Homo sapiens: one gene and its partner. The protein of the gene in region 1 purifies or fractionates together with the protein of each later gene. This does not show direct contact. Each region holds a gene or a part of one and is shown in the gene's direction. Other genes may lie near its edges.

The links.
Region 2: the proteins of SBF2 (region 1) and SQOR purify together in Homo sapiens (affinity purification with mass spectrometry, with the first as the bait; one large-scale study listed by BioGRID). This does not show direct contact.

The regions. Positions count from the first base shown.
Region 1 is NC_000011.10:10,283,960-10,287,778, reverse strand, and holds part of SBF2 (myotubularin-related protein 13), read left to right. Parts: intron 1-3,819. UniProt on the Homo sapiens protein: Guanine nucleotide exchange factor (GEF) which activates RAB21 and possibly RAB28. Promotes the exchange of GDP to GTP, converting inactive GDP-bound Rab proteins into their active GTP-bound form.
Region 2 is NC_000015.10:45,672,855-45,676,673, forward strand, and holds part of SQOR (sulfide:quinone oxidoreductase, mitochondrial), read left to right. Parts: intron 1-752; coding exon 753-947; intron 948-3,246; coding exon 3,247-3,456; intron 3,457-3,819. UniProt on the Homo sapiens protein: Catalyzes the oxidation of hydrogen sulfide with the help of a quinone, such as ubiquinone-10, giving rise to thiosulfate and ultimately to sulfane (molecular sulfur) atoms.

The DNA.
Region 1 (3,819 bases):
CAGGTCTGAGCAAAACTCAGGCAGAGGTGCCACCAGCCACAGGTTTCTGGCCAGAAAAGTGACACCCTAAAGATCCCATAACAATATCTAATAAAGTATAAATTACATGCAATAAAATTTACTCTTTTAAGTGAACATTTCAGTGAGTTTTGACAAATACATACATTAGTGTAGCCACTACTGCAATCAAGATATAGATATAGGGCTGGCCGCTGTGGCTCATATCTATAATGGCAATGCTTTGGGAGGCTGAGGCTGGAGGATTGCTTTAGACCAGGAGTTTGAGACCAGCCTGTGCCACATGGTGAGCCCCATCTTTGAAAAAAAAAAATAGCCTGGCGTGGTGACACATGTCTGTAGTTCCAGCTACTTCGGATGCTAAGATGGGAGGACTGCTTGAACCTAGGAGTTCGAAGCTGCAGTGAGTCATGATCACTCTACTGTATTCCAGCCTGAGTGACAGATTGAGACTCTGTTTCTAAAAATAGGTAGATAGATAGATAGATAGGGAACATTTTCATGCTTCCAAAAAGTTCTCTCATGCCTCTTTGTAGTCAGTTCCCTTTCTAGCATCTGGCAGTCACTGATCTGTTTTCTGTCTGTATGTTTTTGTCTTTTCTAGAATGTCATATAAATAGTATACAGTTTTTTGTGTCTAACTTTTTTCACTTAGGATCATACAGTTGAGATTTATCTATGTTGAATTTATTGGCAGTTGTTCCTTTTTATTGCTTAGTATGATACGATTTATCCATTCACCAGTTGAAGGACACTTGAATTTCTAGTTTTGGGCTATGGTGAACATAATTGTTCTGAACATTTGCATACAGATCTTTGAATGTTTTCATGTTCATGTTTTTATTTCTCTTGGGTAAATACGTAGGAGAAGAATTGCTAGGTCATAAGTGTCTTATTTGTGTGAGACTGACAAACTTTTCTAATTGGCTGTGCCATTTTACATTTTCACTAGCAATGTATGAGAGTTTCAGTTATTCTTTTTAAATTTAATTTATTACTTAAAAATATTTTTGGTTGCTCTGCCTGTGGAGTAGCCATTTTTTGTTAACTTCTCTAATAAACTTGCCTTCACTAAAAAGACAAAAAAACAAAAAACAAAAACAGGCTGGGTGCCGTGGCTCACACTTATAATCTCACCACTTTGGGAGGCCAAGGTGGGTGGATCACGAGGTCAGGAGAACGAGACCATCCTGGCCAACATGGTGAAACCCCGTCTCTCCTAAAAATACAAAAATTAGCTGAGTGTGGTGGCGTGCACCTGTAATCCCAGCTACGTGGGAGGCTGAGGCAGGAGAATGGCTTGAACTCAGGAGGCAGAGATTGCAGTGAGCCGAGATCGCAGTGAGCCGAGATCGCACAACTGCACTACAGCCTGGCGACAGAGCAAGACTGTCTCAAAAAAAAAAAAACCAAAGAACAAAAACTTCCTCTAGCTTTATTGAGATATAATTTACAAATAAAAATCATATATATTTATGGTGGACAGCGTGATGTTTTATGTATACATTGTGAAATGATTACCACAGTCAAGGTAATTAACATATCCATCACTTCACATAGTTACCGTGTGTGTGTGTGTGTGTGTGTGTGTGTGCGTGTGCGTGTTTATGTGAAGAAATTTAAAATCTCTTTTGGCTGGGCGTGGTAGCTCACGCCTGTAATCCCATCACTATGGGAGGCTGAGGTGGGTGGATTGCTTGAGTCCAGGAGTTTGAGACCAGCCTGGGCAACAGGCTTTTTTCTCCAAAAAAAAGATCTACTCTCTTAACATACCTCATTTGTGGTTTTAATTTGCGTTTTCCTGGTGACTAATAATGCTGAACACCTTTTCGGGTGCTTGTTGCCATTTGTGTATTTTTTTGTAAAGTGTCTGATCAAATTTGTGCTCTTTTTTATTGGGTTGTTTGACTTCTTACTGTTATTGGTGGAGGGTGTCCAGGTTCTTGGTGTTTTGAAGAAAGAATTGGACAAAATGCACAAACAAAGCAATGACAGAAAATTACAGATTTATTGAAATGAAAGTACACTCCACAGGGTGGGAATGGGCTTGAGCAAGCAGCTTGAGAGTGCTGGTTACAGAATTTTCTGGGGTTTAAATACCCTCTAGAGGATTCCCATTGGTTATGCAGTGTATGCCTTATGTAAATGAAGAGGATGAAGTGAAGTTACAAAGTTATTTACTTGGTGTACACCCTATGCAAATAAAGAGGATGTTTCCTGACATAGCTGAAGGGAAATTACACAATTATTTACTTGGATGTAGAAAGTTGGGGTTTTTCTGTTTGATTTAGTTCTAGGAAGTCCTTAGGTTCCCTGCCACCAGGTCCTATTCTCCTGCCTCAGTATTATTGAGATTTTTTTTTTTTCTAATTCTAGAAAGTCTGTCCCTCCCTCCCTTTTTCCTCCCCTCTCCCCTCTCTTCCTTCTCTTGCCTTCCCTTCTCTTTTTCCTTTCCTTTCGTCTCACTCTGTTGACCAGGCAGGAAGGCAGTCGCACAATCACAGTTTACTGAAGCCTTGATCTCCCAGGCTCAGTTCATCTTCCCACCTCAGCCTGCCGAGTAGCTGGGACTACAGGTGCACGCCACCATGCCTGGCTAATTTTCTTATTTTTTGTAGAGATGGGGTTTCACCATGTTACCCAGGCTGGTGTTGAACTCCTGGCCTCAAGCAGTCCTTTTGCCTGAACTTCCCAAAGCACTGGGATTACAGCCGTGAGTCACCTCACTGGCCAAATGATACACTCTTTATTTTTGTTCCTAAAGTGTCTTTTCAATTAACAATACTTGCAGTTGAATTTTTAAATATTTATATTTTATAATTGGATTAAAAAAAAAAAACTCTTGTCAGCTGGGTGCAGTTGGCTCACACCTGTAATTGGGAGGCTGAGGTGGGTTATCACTTGTGCCCAGGAATTTGAGACCAGTCTAGGCAACATAGTGAGACCTTGTCTCTACTAAAAATTAAAAAAACATAAAAATGAATTAGCCAGGTGTGATGATGCATGCCTGTAGTCCCAGCTGCTTGGGAGGTTGAGGTGGGAGCATTACTTGAGCCCAGGAGGTCGAGGCTGCAGTGAGCTGTGTTTTTGCCATTGTACTCCAGCCTGGGTAACGGAACAAACTCCAGCCTGGGTAATGGAACAAGATCCCGTCTCAAAAACAAAAGCAAAAACCCCTTGTCTTTTGAAAAATTTCTTTTACAAACTGGAAAAAAGAGTTAATGCATGCTATTTGAATTATATAGAAAGAAGGGTGCCTGGTACATCATAGGTAGTTAAGGAAGATACATGGAATGAACACACAGTTGTTGAAAATATGGGGGAAAAAGCTATAAAAAAGGAGGGTGGGAGGTGGATGTGGTTATAAAAGGGTAATTGGGAGGAATTTTTGTGGTGATAAAATTGTTTTATATTTTGACTGGGTGGTGGATACATATATCTTCATGTGTGATAAAATTGCATAGAACTAAATACACACATACAACCACAAATGAGTATAGGTAAAACTGAGGAAATGTGAATGAGATTGGTGGATTGTATGATATCCTGGTGGTGATTTTGTAATTTAATTTTGCAAGACGTCACCAGTGGAGGGAACTGGGTAAAGGGTATATGGTTTCTGTATTAATTCTTACAATTGTGTGTAAATCTGCAACTATCTCAAAATTAAAAGTTTAATTTAAAAAGCTATAAGGAAGATAGAAAGATACCCTTACTATCTTTTTAAAAGCTATTAATGACATAAGTTATTTTATAAAATTTTAGAAAAACATAATGTCCAGTGGCTGTATTATTATATCA
Region 2 (3,819 bases), on another chromosome or scaffold:
ATTTCACAGATGGTGAACGTTAGGATTCTCAAACCTGAGTGTGCATCTGAATCAGCTGGAGGGCTTGTTAAAACACAGATTGCTGGGCCTGCTCCCAGTTTCTGATTCAGTAGGTCTAGGGTGGGGCCTGATAATCTGCATTTCTAGCAAGTTCCCAGGTGGTGCTTGTGCTGCTGGTCTGAGCACCACACTTGGAGACCTACTGGCTTAGAAGTATTAGGTAATTTACACAGGGTCACAATGCTAGTAAGTGGAAGAGCCAGGACTCAAACTGGTATGTGGGATCCTAAAGTCCATGTTTTTAGGCACCTGGCTTTAGTGCCTTTATCTAGAGTTTGGTCTGGTACAACCTGATAAAGAGTGATTTAAGTTTGCTATTCTTGATGATATAAATGGCTCTTGGTCCTGCCAGTTGTTCTTTCCAGTGAGGCAACTGGGTCTCCTAAAAGGAAGGCTGGCTGGCGTCTTGTCCTCACTCCGATGGTGGGAAAAGTTGTATTCAAATTGTATTCTCAAGGCCAGGGAGTTGAAGGGTTCCTCTGAGCTGAGCCCATTCTGCAGTTTGACAGGTGACTACAGGTGCCACAGCTCTGGTCTTAGAACCCTCACCCACCTGCCTGCTCTAGGCATGTGGGTATTGGAGGGTAATGATAGTACTGAAATATTTGAAAGGTTGTAGAAATGGCAAAGAACAAGGACTCTAAAGACATTTGCACTTTTGTTTAAAATAATTTTTGTGTACTTTGTTGCAGATTAAAGGCCTACCTGAAGGTTTCGCTCATCCCAAAATAGGGTCGAATTATTCAGTTAAGACTGTAGAGAAGACATGGAAAGCTCTGCAGGACTTCAAAGAGGGCAATGCCATCTTCACCTTCCCAAATACTCCAGTGAAGTGTGCTGGAGCCCCTCAGAAGATCATGTACTTATCAGAAGCCTACTTCAGGAAGGTATGCTTCCTTTCTGGGGACAGAGATGAGCAGGGCGGACAGTGCTAATTCACTGATTGCAAGAATTCCATTTTATCTCTATTGTAATCCCTTTTTTATCTCGGAATTTTTATTACATGTGTACAAAATTAGTTAACTGGAAGTTTATAAAATATAAAAGAGGAGAAAATCACTCATGATCCAATTGCTTTAATAAAGCTGCAGTTTTCAATTTGACATGGCTTTCCAGCTTTTTTTCTGTATACTTAAATATGGTTACAGTCATAGTGTACATGAAAAATTTAGCTGTATTATGTAATATTAAATAGTCTTTGTTACATACTTTTTAAATGTGTGTGTAAAAGTCTACTGGATGCTGGGTGTGGTGGCTCTCGCCTCTAATCCCAGCACTTTGGGAGGCCAAGGTGGGTGGATCACCTGAGGTTAGGAGTTCAAGACCAGCCTGACCAACATGGAGAAATCCCGTCTCTACTAAAAATACAAAAAAAATTAGCTGGGCGTGGTGGTGCATGCCTGTAATTCCAGCTACTGGGGAGGCTGAGACAGGAGAATTGCTCGAACCTGGGAGGCGGAGGTTGTGGTGAGCCAAGATTGTGCCATTGCACTCCAGCCTGGGCAACAAGAGCGAAGCTCCGTCTTAAAAAAAAAAAAAAAGTCTACTGGAGAGATATGTTAGAGACTGTTTAAATATTTCCATATAGTTAGACAATTAGTTGCAGATTGTTCATTTTTATCCATAATGCTATCCACTACTTCCACTCAAGTTTAAGGTCATGAATATTTTCTGTCCCTTGGGTATACATTAAAAAAATATGATACGGAAAATGCCAATTTAAAAAGCAAAAAAATGTTCTCATAGAACTTTAAACCTTCATGAAAAGAGATATTTGGGCAGGAGGAGACTTTCTCAGCATTCTCCAAATGCTCTCTGTGTAAGAGCAGTTGTCTGCAGCTCAAGTACACCTGGCTTAAGCTTGTAAGGGAAGCTGTTCTTGCCCTCCCTGCTCTTGCCTGGGGTTTGACATTTAGTTTACCAAAGTGCGGTTTGGCTTGAGACAGTGGCAGGATTTCTAGCAGCTAGTCGTGTATGGGGACAGATGGGAAGAAGGGTGGGGAAGAACGGGCTGGGGAGTGGTTGAATGTGCTCATGGAGGCTGGGACTGATCAAGACCTTCCCCTGAGCTCTGTAAACTGCAACAACCCTGTGAGGTAGGGAATTAAAGGCAGTTCCAGTAATCATTTCTGACCCCAAGAAAGTTCATTCTGGGTCATAAAGGGCTGGCACAGCCTTTTGAGACACTTACCCACCTGAATTCTTCAAATGGTGAGATCCGGGTGAGCAAATCATGAAAGGAGCCGAGCAAAGGAAAGAAGAAGAAACCAGCTGTTTCTTCCGTCCTGGAAACTTCTTTGTGTAACTCTTTTCTCCCAAGTCTTAGATGGCCTACGAGGAAGGTTCGAGTACCATAAGATCTTAGGCATTTGGGAGAATATTGGCCTCTCTGATCTTAGGCATTTGGGAGAATATTGGCCTCTCTGAACAATATCAAGAAGGTAGGAACTCAGGGTTTTGTTGTTACTGTTTTTTAGTTTGTTTATTTTTTTTTTTTGGAGACAGAATTTTGCTCTGTCACCCAGGCTGGAGTGCAATGGTGCAATCTCAGCTCCCTGCAAACTCCGCTTCCTGGGTTCAAGCCATTCTCCTGCCTCAGCCTCCTGAGTAGCTGGGATTACAGGCGCCTGTCACCATGCCCAGCTAATTTTTATATTTTTGGTAGAGACAGGCTTGTCTCAAACCATGTTGGCCAGGCTGGTCTGGAACTCCTGACGTCAGGTGATCTGCCTGCCTCGGCCTCCCAAAGTGCTAGGATTACAGGTGTGAGGTACTGCGCCTGGCTGGAACTCAGTTTTGCTCACTGCTGTTCCCTCAGCACCTAGGACAGTATCTGGCCAACTCTAGAACTTTGTTAAATATTTATTGAGTAAATGAATACATGAATATATGAATAAACATTCCGTTCTACTCTACTCTGTCTTGACCTGGACCTAACCTTCACCTCTGGCCTTCAGCTGGACAGTGCCCACCTCAGCCCCCAACTCAAGTGTGTACTTAGTTGTATGTCATGGGCAGAACATAAGGAGGAGGCAGTGGATTGGTCTACCCATTGCTCTGCCAGGACATAATGGTGGCAAAAGCTAGCAAGGTCCCTGCTGAGGGTTTTAATTCTTGTCTGGATTAAAAAAAAAAAAGGCAGCTGCAGTCATGCTTTGGTGTGAATGGTTTTCTTATTTTTCTCAGACAGGGAAGCGATCCAAGGCCAATATCATTTTCAACACTTCTCTTGGAGCCATTTTCGGGGTTAAGAAGTATGCAGATGCCCTGCAGGAGATCATCCAGGAGCGGAACCTCACTGTTAACTACAAGAAAAACCTCATTGAAGTCCGAGCCGATAAACAAGAGGCTGTATTTGAGAACCTGGACAAACCAGGAGAGACCCAAGTGATTTCAGTGAGTGGTGAGGCTAAGCTGTCAGCATGAAGCGTTGTCTGCTGAAACGTGCCATAGATACATGGGGGCTCACACCACCCTATCTGCCATCATTGTGTGCTGGGGAAGACTGGGTGAAATGAGCATCTTAGGGAAGTGTTAGGGCAAGAAGGTAGGCCAAAATGGTTGGGGAAGAGAAAGATGTAAGAGGCTGTGTCAGTGGGAGGTGAGAAGGTGTCGTTAGCTGGTGCCAAGTGAATTTTTGTCCTATTCCTTTGACTCAACTTTTCCTGGCATCGAGTCACTTGAGGTAGCCAAAAATATTCCACAACTTTGGTTACTGTGTAGAGGTAAGGGAGGGCTTCCTCGAATGCAAGATCTGGT